Linked DNA regions of Homo sapiens: all the other regions are linked to region 2. Evidence: fine-mapped expression QTL. A gene starts in region 2. Each other region holds a variant in brackets. All regions are shown on one strand. Distances are between the middles of the regions.

Evidence for each region. PIP is the estimated chance that this variant, and not a neighbour inherited with it, causes the effect. A credible set is the group of variants that fine-mapping cannot tell apart.
Region 1: its variant is the best candidate, but not a certain one, in a credible set for the expression of CD38 in gastroesophageal junction (GTEx, PIP 0.79).
Region 3: its variant is the best candidate, but not a certain one, in a credible set for the expression of CD38 in subcutaneous fat (GTEx, PIP 0.85).

What each region holds. Positions count from the first base shown.
Region 1 is chr4:16,054,918-16,060,147 of GRCh38, forward strand. All of the region lies in intron 2 of PROM1 (prominin 1), which reads right to left. Among named protein-coding and RNA genes, the nearest start is that of PROM1, 26 kb to the right of the region's middle. The variant A/G (reference allele first, on the strand shown) is at 3,122.
Region 2 is chr4:15,775,579-15,780,808 of GRCh38, forward strand. It overlaps CD38 (CD38 molecule), which reads left to right and starts at 2,750. Exons shown (of 8, transcript NM_001775.4): 1 at 2,750-3,069. The coding sequence starts at 2,837. RefSeq lists enhancers at 2,535-3,177, 2,589-3,088 and silencers at 3,219-3,268, 3,459-3,508.
Region 3 is chr4:15,735,089-15,740,318 of GRCh38, forward strand. It overlaps a transcript of BST1 not described here. Among named protein-coding and RNA genes, the nearest start is that of BST1, 35 kb to the left of the region's middle. The variant A/G (reference allele first, on the strand shown) is at 2,787.

The DNA.
Region 1 (5,230 bases), 280 kb after region 2:
ATCACTAAATCCCTGCAACTCATAACTCACTTGTGACATTTAATGATCCACTGGCTTACATGTTCCCTGGACTATTTATTCTACGTAAATACATTTGTCTACTCTGCTAGAGAGACTGTTCATTCCTTAAAGCAGAAGATGTTCTCTCTGCCACACAAATCCTGTAACTCCTAACCCAGTGCTGTCCACCTGTAGCAATTGCTTAGTAAAACTTGCATGCCCCAAATGAGACATCTAAATGAGATCTAAGAACCTAGCATTCTCCTAGGCAAGACTATTTTCCTTGGAGAAACAAAATGTGGATTCATAATCACAGTACCATTCTTGATAAATTAGGCTGGTCATGGTGGCTTACGTCTACAGTTCCAGCTACTCAGGAGGCTGAGGCAGGAGGATCACTTGTGTGCTGAGATAACCTCCCAGGCAAAAATTCCCCTTGTCCTCTTTCTGGCTTCGTTATCCTACCAGCTCTCATTTGGCTGCAGGGTCTTAAATGAGCAGGCTTCTCCTATCTGGGCCTTTGTGTTCTCATCTACAAAATGGAAGTAGGGAATTGAATAATTATTTCTGATCGGAAGATCTCCCCAAACTCACAAATTCCCTAGAACCAAATAGCCTAATACCAATTCACGGTAAACAGCCTAGGGAAAGGGTTTTCGTCTGAAGAGAGGCTGTCACGGAATCAATAATAAAAAGACTAAGACTCTGCTACATAGCTAGGCAGAGGCATTTCACAGACAAACCCCTTAGAAAGGAAACAGATGTGAAAACGGTCAACCTTGACGGTAATGAGAAATATATATTTTTAAAAATGCAATGTCATAGCCTTTACAATTCCATTTTCTAAATACCCAACACATTACTAGTGGTGGCATAAACATCACAGACCTTCTGGTGGATTGATAATTCTTTCAAAAACTTGGAAATTAATCGTATCTTTTGGCTAAGAATGTTCTGGGAAAAGAATCCTAAACACAAACAAAAACATTTCCTGCATATCTAACCCTAGTAGAAATCTGGAAGTCAAAACAGGGAGGGGTGAGTGAGTCTGCAAGTGACTCTGTCCATATTCTCCATGAAGAGTAAGGTCTCTAGCTGGCAGAGGAGAGTTCAGGGTAGAGATTTGAGAAGAGAAGAGGACGTGTGCAAGCAGGGGGTTAGGAAAGAGGATTGACTGAGAAACAGGTCAGAGCTGTCAGGAGTACGAGCATCCTCGTGGGGGCTGTGGATATTCATTTAAGAGAGTCCAGCTGGCACAGTCGCAATTGTTTCTAGGAGCAGTCGGCCGCTTGGGTGTAGGCCTGAGGAAGTGGAGTAACCAGAAAACGCTGCAACCAGATTTAGGATTCCACCAAACAACAACCATGGTGGCAGAGGAGGGCAAGAGGATCTTTATAACGCAGGACTGTGGGTGCTCACAAAGGGAAGAGGAGGGGGCCCTGAGAGGGTACACAAGAGTGTATCCGCTCTTGCACGCAACAATTATGGGGTACTTGCTGCGTTGTGGGCACCACTCCAGATTCTGGGGCTATTGTATGGAGGAGTGAACAAAATCAATAGTGTTCCCCTCTTCAAGATGTTTAGAGTCTATCAAGTGAGATAAACAAATATTTATTGTAATACCAGAATAAATGCTATAAAGAAAAATGAAGCAAGGTGAGGGGTGTTGGGGTGGAAGACGATCTGTCCCTCTGAGATGACATTTGAGCAAAGGCTGGAAAGAAACAAGCCATGAAAAAAAAAAAATCGAAAGAAGAAAAAAAAGAAACGAGCCATGCAGAAGAGTCGTCCAGGCAAAGGGAATAGGCAGAGAAGCAAAGGGTCTGAGGCTTAGGAGCGTTTGGCATGTTCCAGGGAGTCGGCTGGCCTAGCTATTACAGGGGTTTGGGGCTACTACTGCAAGCTGCTGCCCATTCTCTCTGCCCATTAGGAGGCCCTGGCCATGGTCCAGGGGACTGGCAGCCTCAGCTGGGAGAGGGCAGTCCTGGTGGTCAGAAGGGGACAGATTTGAAATACACTCTCACACGAGAGCATGCGATTTCCATGCGAGCAAATTAGTCTTCAGGAAGACTGGCCTGCTCCTGTTTTTGCAATACAACGCTTAGGAAGCTGTCATTTCTGAAGTCAGGGAGCTATTTACTTGAATTTCAGAAGGAGATACTCATTTCTTCTCAGTTTTATTTCTATGCACAAGTTATATTTGGAATGGCTCTTTAAAGAAACACAATTCCTTGCCAGGCAGGCATCCGGGTAGTCAGTCATTTGTACACAGATCTGGCACATAAAACTCAGCATGTCACAATCAATCACCCTTCTGGAAGCCTGCTGTCCAAATCTCATTAGGCTGAGCTTCTGGGTCAGCCAGTTTCCAAGAGGATATAAAAACGTATACAACCTCCTCTTTCCCAGGATGCAGTCAGGTTCGAAGAGAGCCTTCATCTCAATTAGTAAACATGTCCTAATTTCATCAGTGACAGCATCAGATTGAAACATTTCAAATCATAATTCGGGAACTTAGAGACTCCTACATGAAGTAATCAACGCTAAGGAAAAACCAAATGTGAACAGTCACATCACCACCTTCTGGCTCCCAGGGTGAGCTAAGAAGCTTCTTCTCCACAGGCTTCTTCAACAGAATCTTTGTCTCTCCAGCCATTTTCTGTAAACTAATCACCACTCTCCTTGCAAGGCTAAAGAAACTTCTTTCATCCAGGCTGATGGGGAAAACAGATCTTCTCTATTTCCCTTCTCTAGTTTTAAATTATCGACTCTTCTTATTTTAATCCCACTCAAGAAAGATTAGGATTTTTATTTCTATTTATATCTACCTAGGTTTACAGAGATACATATAGAATTACGATAACATAAATAAGAAGAAAGAAAAAGAAAGAAAAGCAAGCCCGGGGACCTAAGAGGAAACAGGAGCTCCATAGAGTCAGATGCTCTCTGACTGATGGTTCCATCCCCCACAGCATTCATTCCTTACCTGTTTGCTGAACAAGGAACATACGAAGCAAAAGGTACAGCAGAGTCCTATACCTGTGGCGAAGGGTGATTCACTGTTTCAAAACTTCCCAGTAGCAGCCACCTGAAACTGTCCAGGCCAATTGTTCAGGAAAAA[A/G]AGACTAGAAAGAAGGTTTTTTTCCAAGGGCTCTCACAAAGAGGAAACTGGGACATAATCAACAAATGCCTCAACAACTGTAATGGAAGGAACAGGTTTCACTGTGCAGTTCCAGAAAACAGTGAGGAGAGAGTGAAGGGGCCTTATGAATCGCTCTAGGCATCCGGCTCACAGCTCAGGACAAAGCCCAGTGGACTTCAGAACACAACCACTGAAGGCTTTAACATTTTTTACTGAACTAACTATAACAACTCATACTTTTTAAAAAATCACTGCTTTTCAAAAAGATAAAATTCATTCAATATTATTAGCCAAATGAGTAAAGAGGGGAATCAAAACTCAAATGATAAACTATCAGAAATGAAAAATGATGCCAACGCAGGTGGATCACCTGAGGTCAGGAGTTCAAGACCAGCCTGGACAACATGGTAAAACCCCATCTCTACAGAAATACAAAAATTAGCCAGGCGTGGTGATGCATGCCTGTAATCCCAGCTACTGAGGAGGCTGAGGCAGGAGAATTGCCTGAACCCAGGAGGCAGAGGTTGCAGCGAGCCAAGATCACGCCACTGCACTCTAGCCTGGGCGACAGAATAAGACTCCATCTCCGGGAAAAAAAAAAAAAAATGAGAACACCGCATTTAAAAACTTAGAGGAGGAAGCCAAAACTGTCCTCAGGAGTAATTTTACAGACTTAAATGCATTTATTAGGAAATAAGCATAAAAATAAAATAATTTACCTCAAAAGGCTAAAAAAAAGTAAATAAGCTTCCAAAAATAGAAGAATTACTAAAAATAAACTAAACAAAACAAAGATAATTTTTCAGTTAAAAGGCACATTAGGAGGCATAAAGCCCAGCTCTTAACTCTGGAGCCTAGTCATGTTGCAGCAGGGAAGACACACCTGGAAAACAAGCAGTACAGTGTCCAAAAAGGTACCTTGGGAATGGGCTAAACTCCACTGAGTAATACCTGGACAGAACCTTTATATCAAATGTTCAGAATCACTCCACTTGTTTTTCCTTTCTAGACATCTAGGAAGTACTGGAACTTACAAAGCATTTTCATGGAATGCATTGTTCAACCCTCCTAAATGTATTATGTAATAGCCTAGTCTAAGAGGATAATGAAAAAAACAAGATTCTGAAATCAGTCAGATATGAGTTCAAATTCCTGCTCTGCCCACTCACAAGCTATGTGACCCTTGGCTAAGTGAGTTACCCTCTCCGAGCCTCCATTTCCATGTACATAAAATAGAAATGTCCACCCCACAAGACAGTAGACAAAATTCAGTGAGCTGTTTCTGCATTTTTCTGATGTATAGGTAAACTGGTTCAACATTTATGGAGTGCCATTAGGTGATATCTATCAAAAGTGCAAACTGGCCAGGCTCAGAAGCTCACATCTATAATCCCAGCACTTTGGGAGGCCAAGGCAGGAGGATGGCTTGAGCCCAGGAGTTCGAGACCAGCCTGGGCAACATGGGGAGATCCTGTCTCTCTAAAAAATAAAAAAAATTAGTCGGGTGGGGTGGTGCATGCCTGTGTTCCAGCTACTGGAGAGGCTAAGGTGGGAGGATCGCCTAAGCCCAGGAGGTGGAGGCTGCAGTGAGCTACGATTGTGTCACTGCAGTCCAGCCTCAGTGAAAAGTCACTTAGTGCAAATTCATGAAATTATAAACTGACCTGGCAATTCTATTTCTAGGAGTTTACCCCATATATATACTTGCATATTTGTGAAATAACTAAAATAATTTATAACAATGTATATAACAGCAAAATGGTTGAAATTAATTGATAAATAATAAACTACCTCACAGCAATTAAAAAAAATGGTAGTAAGACTGTTAGGGGTAGATCTAAAAAAATAAGGATGAGAGGGCTCTCTAGGTGCTAATATAAAATAATAATCAAGCTGTATGTTTAAAAAGAAAGCAAGGTGCCAAGTAATATATACAGTATTTTTTCACTGATGGAGACAAGACCATATACACATGTTGGCTTCTACATGCATAAAATAGGTCTGAAGAGACACAGACACACACAAACGCTGATAACAATGGTTGCCTATAAAGGGAGGCGGGGGGCTGAGAATCAGGAATGGGACTGA
Region 2 (5,230 bases):
TTTGGTCAGTTACACAAATAAAAAATCTTGGCATCATCTTTGACTCATCTCTTTCTTGCAAATGCTACATCCAATTCATCAGCAAATCCTGCTGCTGCTACCTTCAAACTCTATTCAGAATCCATCTTTTTTTTTCTTTGCCACCTTCATTACTGCTACTACAGCCATTGTAACTGTTCTCCATCCTTATCCTCCTACAATTTATTCTTAATACCAAAGCCAGATTGATCCTTTAAAATAATATGCCAGATCAAGTCATTTGGTGACTTGTATGGGTAAAAATAAAATGCACACGAATGGGTTAAAAATAAAATCCAAAAACAGGCACATAGACCAATGAAACAGAATAGAGATCTCAGAAATAAGACTCACATCTACAACCATCTGATCTTTGACAGACCTGACAAAAACAAGCAATGGGGAAAGGATTCCCTATTTAATAAATGGTGCTGGGAAAACTGGCTAGCTATACGCAGAAAATTGAAACTGGATCCCTTCCTTACACCTTTTTCAAAAATTAACTCAAGATGGATTAAAGATTTAAAATGTAAAACCCAAAACTATAAAAACCCTAGAAGAAAATCTAGGCAATACCATTCAGGACATAGGCATGGGCAAAGATTTCATAATGAAAATGTCAAAAGCAATTCCAACAAAAGCGAAAATGACAAATGGGATCCAATTAAACTCAGGAACTTCTGCACACCGAAAGAAACTATAATCAGGGTGAACAGACAACCTACAGCATGGGAGAACATTTTCAAAATCTATCCATCTGACAAAGGTCTAATATCCAGAATCTACAAGGAACTTAAACTAATTTATAAGAAATAAACAACCCCATTAAAAAGTGGGCAAAGGACATGAACAGATATTTCTCAAAAGAAGACATTTATATAGCCAACAAACATATGAAAAAAAGCTCAACATCATTGATCATTAGAAAAATGCAAACCAAAACCACAATGAAATATCATCTCATGCCAGTCAGAATGGTGATCATTAAAAAGTCAATAAACAACAGATGCTGGTGAGGTTGTGGAGAAATAGGAACACTTACACTGTTGATGGGAGTGTAAATTAGTTCAACCATTGTGGAAGACAGTATGGGGATTCCTCAAAGATCTAGAACCAGAAATACCATTTGACCCAGCAATCTCATTACTGGGTATATACCCAAAGGAATATAAATCATTCTGTTATAAAGATACATGCATGCATATGTTCATTGTAGCACTATTCACAATAGCAATGACATGGAATCAACCCAAATGCCCATCAATGACAGACTGGATAAAGACAATGTGGTACATATACACCAGGGAATACTGTGCAGCCACAAAAAGGAACGAGATCATGTCCTTTGCAGGGACATGGATGGAGCTGGAAGCCATTATCCTCAGCAAACTAACACAGGAACAGAAAACCAAGCACTGCATGTTCTCACTTATAAGTGGGAGCTGAACAATGAACACAGGGAGGGGAACAACACACACTGGGGCCTGTTGGGGAGAGTGGAGGGAGGGAGAGCATCAGAAAGAATAGCTAAAACATGAGGGGCTTAATACCTAAGCAATGGATTGATAGGTGCAGCAAACCACCATGGCACACATTTACCTATGTAACAACTCTGCACGTCCTGTACATGTATCCCAGAACTTAAAACAAAATAAAAAAGATAAAAAATAAATAAAACACACAGTCCAAAAAGTCATCCTGTCTTACAGAGCTATGGGTGATCTGGTCTCCTGCTACTTTCCGAACTTCTGTTCTGTTTCCCTCAACCCTCTAGCCTAACTACAATTGGCCTCCTTGCTGCTCTGGAACAGGCCAAGAGCTTTTCTGCCTCAGAGTCTTTGCACCTGCCATTTCCTCTGCTTGGGAAATGTTTGCCCCAAGGGAGTTGGGTGACTTGATCGCTCACATTACTTAGGTCTCTGCTTGAATGTCACAGATGTTCTCTTAATAAAGAAGAGGCAAGAAAAGCCACTTTATTATTTATTAAACTCCCGCATAGAGTGCAGTATTATTACTGTGTGCCAGACCCTGCTTCAAACACATTCCATGGACTATAAAATTGCATCTCTGAGCAGCTCCTAGAGCTGGTAGTAACAACTTACATTTACTGGGTGATTACCATGTGCCAGGTATTGTGCTAAACACGTTGTAGATATTAACTCACTTAATCCTCGTAACAATCCCATGAAGTAGGTACTGCTACTATCCCGGCTTTACATCTGAAGTACAGAGAGGTTAAGTAACTTGCCCCATGTCATCCAGCAAGAACTAAATTTGAACCCAGAGCTTAGCCACTGATGCCTCTTGAGAGAAGGAGTCAGACTTAAGTTGAGTCTTTAAAGGTGGTTGACCAGGCATTTGTCAGAGTTAAGAAAGAGAGGTAGGACATCCTTTTCCAGGCAGAGGGCATTGTGTGCACACACGTATAGAAGCAGGCAGCCCACCCTCATGCTTTCCAGGAAGCAAATGTGGCTCAGGTGTAAAGTGCCCGGTTGATGAAGGGAGTTAGCGGAGGGAGTATAAGGATGTACTGTCTGCCCCCTTAGGACACCTGCAGAGGATTAAGGTGGCTGTTTCTCCCTGGAGGTGGAGTGGGTGGGTCACTGCACAGGAGCCTATAGTTGTTGGTCTTTTAAACTCTTATTGGTGTAACCAGCCACGGAACTCTGAGGCAAGGGGTTGGGGGTGGGAAGGGAAACAGAGAAAAGGCAAGTGAAACAGAAGGGGAGGTGCAGTTTCAGAACCCAGCCAGCCTCTCTCTTGCTGCCTAGCCTCCTGCCGGCCTCATCTTCGCCCAGCCAACCCCGCCTGGAGCCCTATGGCCAACTGCGAGTTCAGCCCGGTGTCCGGGGACAAACCCTGCTGCCGGCTCTCTAGGAGAGCCCAACTCTGTCTTGGCGTCAGTATCCTGGTCCTGATCCTCGTCGTGGTGCTCGCGGTGGTCGTCCCGAGGTGGCGCCAGCAGTGGAGCGGTCCGGGCACCACCAAGCGCTTTCCCGAGACCGTCCTGGCGCGATGCGTCAAGTACACTGAAATTCATCCTGAGATGAGGTGGGTTGGCGACTAAGGCGCACCGGTGGGCACTGCGGGGACAGCAGGGCCCCGCGCGCAGGGAAGCCGCCCGGATCGCCCGGAACCGGGCATCTTCCGTGGCGGGTCAGCCGAGAGCCCGCCGGGTGGTGCTGAGTAGGGAGTCCCGGGCTCGGGGCTCCGCGGGCCGCTTTCAGGAGCAGCTGGCCTTGGCACCGAGCGTGCCCGCGGGAGGCGGGGGGGGGCGCTGCTCGGTGGCTCTGCTGCGTAGCCGGTGAACACTTGGCACCGATGCCCGCCTTCTGGGCAAGGTGCCCTGAGCCCAGCCCCTCGCCGGGCTGCAGCCCACCCTCGGCGCGCTCAGCCCGCTTCACCGCTTCAGGGACGGAATAGAACTCGCAGATGCAGGGTGTCGCTGACATTTTCAACTTTTTCTGCGGTTTCCGCCCGCTGTCTCTGACCCGAAAGTGCCCCCGGACGGTTACAGAGGACACTTAAGTGGTTTGCAAAGCCTGTGGTAGGGGAGGAGGGTGTAGAAGGGCCAAACCACGGAACTTAGTTTTATTCATTTATATAAAGCAGCACTCCGATTCTTTTTGCGCGGCCTGAAATGCATGTGACCAGAGAAGTAATTAACAAAACAATGTCAACTTCTAAAACCGAGACATTACTTAGATGATAAGGCGCAGCAACTCGGTGAATCTGTACAAACCTTGGAAAAAAAACACATTAGTCTATGGGACCTTCCAGTTTTCTCATGCTCCTTTCCAGCTACTAACCTCTCCTAAAGGGAACAACCACTTTTTGGATTTGATTCCCAGGCCTCGCTTTCACCGGGAAATTATCGTTGCTTGTAAAACAGAAGAAGCCGGGAAGGCAGGCAGGGGGAGCTGCTACTTTACACTCTGTGCTTTGGGATAGCAAAATCCCGCATTTAAGCAATCCGAGGAAACGAGCAAATAGACCTCCCTCGCCTCTCCGAGCACACTCAACAGTTCCGGTTGCAAAATGTTTGCCTCCTGGGCTTCCCAGCGTCCCGTTAGTTGTTCTATTTACACATAATTAGATACTTAATGGAGAGAGAAACTAGAAGTTGAGGCGTTCCTCCAGGCTGTATTGTAAAGTATGAAGTGAAATCCAAAATGAAATGGTAATGTTAGAAAGCAACCTCATTAAAAAAAAAAAAAGTAACACTGGTCTTGAAGATCTTTCAATGTGAGTACATAAAGATCTATCTCATTTCTTTTGACAGCCCATAGTATTTCATAAACTAGATGTAACCATTTCCTATTGACAGGAAATTAGCTTGTTTCCAATTTTTCAATCCCATTCATTCATCCAACAAGTATCTGTTGAGCACCCACTATGTTCCAGACAGTGATCTAGCTACTGATGACACAAGAGTGAATGACGAAGTTCTCACTCATGAAATTTTCACCTTAGTTGGGAGAAACATGATGCAATGAAAATCTTCATACATACATTGTGTGTACATATGGGAGTATTTCTGTAGGATAGATTTCTAGTGATGAAACTGCTGAGTAAAAGGGAGAATTATGCATATTTTAAGTTTTGATTTTTCCAAATTCCAGGTATTCCATATATACTCCAAAATAGTTGTGCCATTTTACTCTCCCATCATCAGTCTATCAGAGGGGATGCTTTCCCACAATCTCTTGAATGCTGAATATTTTCAACTTTTTTACTTAAGAGAAAAAAGAGCATCTAATTGTTCCCTCAGTATCAGTGAGTCTAAGCATCTTGTATATGTTTATTTGCCATTTATATTTTTTTCTGTGATTTTCCTGTCCAGATACTTGATACTTTCTATTGAGCTGCTTATTTATTTCTTATGGGAGATTTTTATATATTTTAGATAATATTCTCTCTCTCACACACACACACACACACACACACACACACACACACACACACACACACATACAGTCTTACAGCCACATCCCTGAAATCTTGACCTTGTGAACATGTTTTACTGGCAGCACTCTGGACTCGATCATTGCCTTGAGACTATTTCTTTTTTGATATTCTTTGGAAAGACTAACAATGACAGTTTTATTTTCAAACCCAACAAATCCTGGCATGGAAATGTTTGCTCTTGATTCTGCTTTTAAAAAAATAAAGAATTATTTTCTCTCTTTCTTTCTGCACCTTATCAGAAACA
Region 3 (5,230 bases), 40 kb before region 2:
TCTCCCTCCTCAGGGTCTTTGAACATGTTGGTCTCTCTGTGTTGATTTTCCTTCCTGCCCTGTCTCCCATCTGGCAGACTCTAAGACATACCTTAAGCATCACCTCCTCCCTGGATCCTTCTGTTGACCTCTCTCCCTGCAAAAAAGCAAAGAATTCCCTAACAGGGCCCATCTTCATGGTGTCAGCATTGTTTGGGTCCTTGCCTAACTTCACCCTGGGACTGTGGCTTCTTTGCAGACTCACTCATCTTTGCAGCCCTAGCCTAGCCCTGCTTGGATGAAGTAGACCTTCCACGTGTGAATGAACTAAGTTTAATAGAGGAAAACAGAGGGTGGGGGATTCTTTAGCTTTCTTTTGTTGGAGGAGGCCAGGGAGGGTACAAGGGAAGCTTAATAACAAGGTGTGGCATGCTTTTCTGTATTTATGGCATACTTTCATAAAACACTTGAAGTGTGTGATATTGCTAGGGTGTGTGAGGGGAGCCGTGAGGGAAGATGACAAGCAGCATAAGACTTTTGGGTACTTAGAGAAAGAGAAAAGGACCCAACCAACCAACTTCCAATTCATAATTCATGGTTTGTCTCAGGACCGTCTGGCTCCTTAGGCCAATCCCATGGGAGCCCCAGCCAAGGGGCGTCTCTTAGACCAAGCTTGGAAAACACAGTGTCTGCTGCCTTCATGTTGCCTGGGTTACCAGGCGACTTAGCCACTCACAGCACAGTGACCTGCGACTCAATTAGAGAAATGCCATTTTGAGTTCCATAAGAAAAATAAGGCTTTATTTTTAAAAACTAAACATAACTTCACTTTTTTCCCGAATATAAGAGTAATAATGGCTCTTTACTTGAAAAAAATCTACACAATACAGAAAAATTAGGAAGAAGGCAAATCTCATCTGTCATACTGCACGCAGAGTAGCAGACATTTTTCTATGTGTTTTTATGCACATATTTATATTTATAGACCCAAGAGGCTATGTGGGACATTAGGAGTGCGACCCAGAGCAGAACCATACAACCGCCGGTTCTAGCCTTTGTACAAGGTAAATCATGGGTTTCAAACATATCATTGCCTCCTGACTGATCTCTCTGCTTCTGCTTGGTTTCTCCTTCAGCCTAACTTCCACAATGCTGCCAGAGCAATGTCCTACGCTAGGGTCCTGAGTGCATCGTCCTCTTGCTCAAAATCAGCAATGGTTTCCTACCCTTGGCAAGACAAATTTCAAATTTTAAAATCTGCTCTTCAAGAAGCCGGGCGCAGTGGCTCCTGCCTATAATTCCAGCACTTTGTGAGGCCAAGGTGGGCAGATCACTTGAGGTCAGGAGCCCTGGACAACATGGTGAAACCCTGTATGTACTAAAAATACAAAAATTAGCTGGGCGTGGTGGCACGTGCCTGTAATCCCAGGTACTCTGAAGGTTGAGGCAGGAGAACTGCTTGAACCAAGGACACAGAGGTTGCAGTGAGCCTAGATTGCTCCACTGCACTCCAGCCTGGGTGATAGAGTGAGACTCTGTCTCCAAAAAAAAAAAAAAATCTGCGATTCAAGATCTTTCCATTTGCCCCTAAACTGCCTTACTAGGTCTGTGTCCCAGGAGACCCCACTGCACTCTCCATGAACCTTCTCTCAGTTCCGTATTCTCAACATAAGCCTTTGGATCTGGTACCTTTGCTCACCTCCTCCTCGAAGCCTTACTTAGTTCCAGATCCATTTGTTTTTATGTCTCTCTCTCTTGAGGACAGCAACTTTACCTCTTTGTCTTTGTGTCTGTCATAATGCTTTACCCTGACCAGCCATGACCTAGTCAGCATTTGATCAGATTGGGTGAGAACCTTGGGTTTGGGGAATCAAGACAAAGGAAATGGGGAGGCAGCCTAACATTGTGGCCAAGAGCATGGACTCTGGCACCTAACAGGTTGGCCCACATCCTACCTTCAGCACTTGCTCGCTGTGTAGCCTTGGGCAACTCACTTACCTTACCTGAGCTGCATCACCGTGTGTGTAAGTAGGGATTATAAGTACTCATAATTCAATGAGCGAATGTGCATAAAGAACCCAGAACAGTGCCAGGAGTATAGTAGATCAGCCCTGTATAAGTGTTATTTGCTAGTGTTATTGTTACTACTACTAGAGTTGTTTGATAGCTGTCTAAACACCATCTGCAATACAGCACTCTCTGCAGATCAGAAGTTACTGTGCACTGGGCACTGTGTGAAGTATTTTCATAAATGGCCCCTTTCAATCCTCACTCGACCCCATAGGATCAATTCTCTTATTATCCTATTTTACAGATGAGAAAACATAGACATAGAAAGCTTTTCTTACTTGGCCAAGGTCACCTCTCTTGGCCTCGGTTCCTCCATGGTCTGGGCAGCAAGGGGGCAGCAGGGAGCCCTGGCAAAAGCAGCTAAGAAAACCAGCCTCGTGTGTCTTCAACAAACAGGTCCCAGCACCAGCTCCATGCCTGGCACACTTAATGGGTACTTAATGCTCTTCTACCAAGTGAATGAACAATGCTAAGCATTTGACCAAAAGAGAAATGCACATGGAAGACCCCTGAGCACAAGGACTGGGTGGGCACATGAAGAACTGAGTTCTCTTTCCTCTCCTGTCGTAGGTACCAGGTACCTTACACTTGGCTGTATTCCCTCTAGCACGATAGACTTGGTAACAAGGTACTTTCTGAACCTGAACAGGAAACTGTGGGAACCATGATGGGGAAGATACTGACTGTCAGAGAGTCCAAAGATGTAAATGCCTTCCACTCCCACAGCAAGGAAGCCG[A/G]AATCTCCAGAGGCTCTGGCAAGAGTTGAGTCAATTGCATGCCTGCCTAGTCCAGCTCCGTCCACATGAATGCTCTCCACAAGCTTCAGAGGAAACAGGATAAAATGGACTCCCAAATATTTAGGGTGGTGAAAATACTCTGCATGATACTAGAATTGTGGATACAGGTGATTATATATGTGTCCAAACCTACAGAAGGTACAACACCAAGGGTGAACCCTCAGGTAAACTACAGAGGCTGGGTGACCATGATGTTTCAATGTCGGTTCATTAGTTGTGACAAATGCACCACTCCACCACTCTGGTGGGGATGCTGCCAGTGGGGGAGGCTATGTATGTGTGGGGACAGAGCGTATGTGGGAAGCTCTGTACTTTCTGCTCAAATTTGCTGTGAACCTAAAACTGCTCTAAACATTAAAGCCTATTCAAAAAAATGAAAGCCTAATTTGAAAAGGAATTTCAGACACTTGGGAAAAAGAATAATGACGTCTATAAGTCATTCTTTGATAAGAGAGTCGGTCAGTCTGGTGTGTCTAGTAAGGTAGCAGAGGGACATTCACAAAGACCGGAGAATACAAAGATGTTAAACAGGGTGAGGAGTCTATGATGTTGGTCAGTATAAAAGGAGAAAAAGATCCTAAAAACATTCCTAAATATTGTTTGATTTAAAAATATATGTTGGAAGGCAAGAGAGTTTGATAAAAAAATAAAAATAAAAATAAAAAACCTTGATGGGAAGTGGGAATGACCACACGTTAGCCAGCTGATAGCTTACCTGTTTGAAGTTCAGCTTCCACACGATTGTTACAGACGGAACTGTGTTCCCTCAAATTCATAGTTCGTTATGGCCACCCTGGTAAGCTAACACAACAATGAAAATTTCCAAAGTAAAGACTAGAAGCAGGCATGTGCCAAGTGAACACTAGCTTTTTTTATTTCTCCTGCTGTGAAAATTGAGGTTTGCCAAAGGTGCCAAATGAACATGGCTGATTGAGAAGTAATCCCAGTTCCACTAACCTGAGAGACAGCCCAGGCAAGCGGACCTAGCTCCTAATGCTCATTTCCATTTCAGTCTTTCTGAAGTTTCCCAGGGTGAGAAAGTGGAACTCAGGACAATGAATCATCATTGGAGACTCTGCAGTTGCTAGAACTTAATTCACAGGCATTTGAAACCCAGAACTCAGCCTTACTCTTCTCAGGAGACTTTTGGCACCAAAGAGAAGGGCAAATTGAAAGCCCATGCTGGAGAACAGGGCACAGCTATTGCTGAGACTGGGAGCTTGTTTTTAAAGACCTGGCAAGGGTTTCAAACACCCACATGCATAACCAATGAAGCAGGTTGGAAAATCTGAACTATGCTAATTTCACCATAATTACTCATTACTTGAAGTCTTATGTATTTGTGTTTTCTTGGTAGTCTCTTTAAAACATGTTTCAATATGAAACGTATATGTATTAAATCACTCCGCTTAGAATTTTAGGAATATAGTTTTGTTTTTCCCCCTAAAAGATGTAGAATGCAGCAGGTTCTCTAAAGCACATGTATTCTTTGTTACGTGATTTGGTTCTTTGGAACTTCTTTTATCATGTAGCTATTAAAGGGTAGCTGTCAGAATTACCCAAACTCTTCACTGAAATGACTTACTTATTTGAGAAAAATGCATGTTAAGAAGCCAAACCGTGTGTGTGTGTGTGTGTGTGTGTGTGTGTGTGTGTGTGTATTTCTCCCCTGCACAAAAGTAGAAGGGTTTTCATTTGACTTGTGCCAGCTGCACCTTCATGACTTTGCTATAGGACATGTGACACAGTAACTCTAAGATGGTGCTTGTAAAATTTTAAAATAGTTAACATACAGTGACAAGCTCTCAGGGGAACACATTAAACTCGATTAAATTTTGTAGGGTAAAAAGATGTGTACAGAAATATAATCAGAGTGAAGTCATTGTTCACCATTGCTGCTAGTAATAAAATTTGGTGGTAGGAGGGGGAAGGAGAAAGGGAGGGAGGGAAGTCGGTGAGAGAGAGAAAAGGAGAGGGAGACATTGACAGAGAGAGAGACAGACAGACAGAGAAACAGAGAGAGACAGAGAAAGAGAGGGAAGAAGGGAGAGAGAGAGAGATAAGGATAGAGAGAGACAGGGAGAGAGTGTATCTCCTGATCCTCACTGGCTGATAACTAAATTAGTTGGGGGCAGGGGGGACTGAATCTCGTTCTGTCACCGAGGCTGGAGTGCAGTGGCACCGTCTCGTCTCACTGCAACGTCTGCCTCCCAGGTTCAAGTGATTCTCATGCCTCGGCCTCCCTAGCAGCTGGGACTACAGGCACACGCCACTATGCCTGGCTAATTTTTTGTATTCTTTTTGCTAGAGACGGGGTTTTGCCATGTTGACCAGGCTGGTCTCAAACTTCTAACCACAGTGATCTGCCCGCCTTGGGTTCCCAA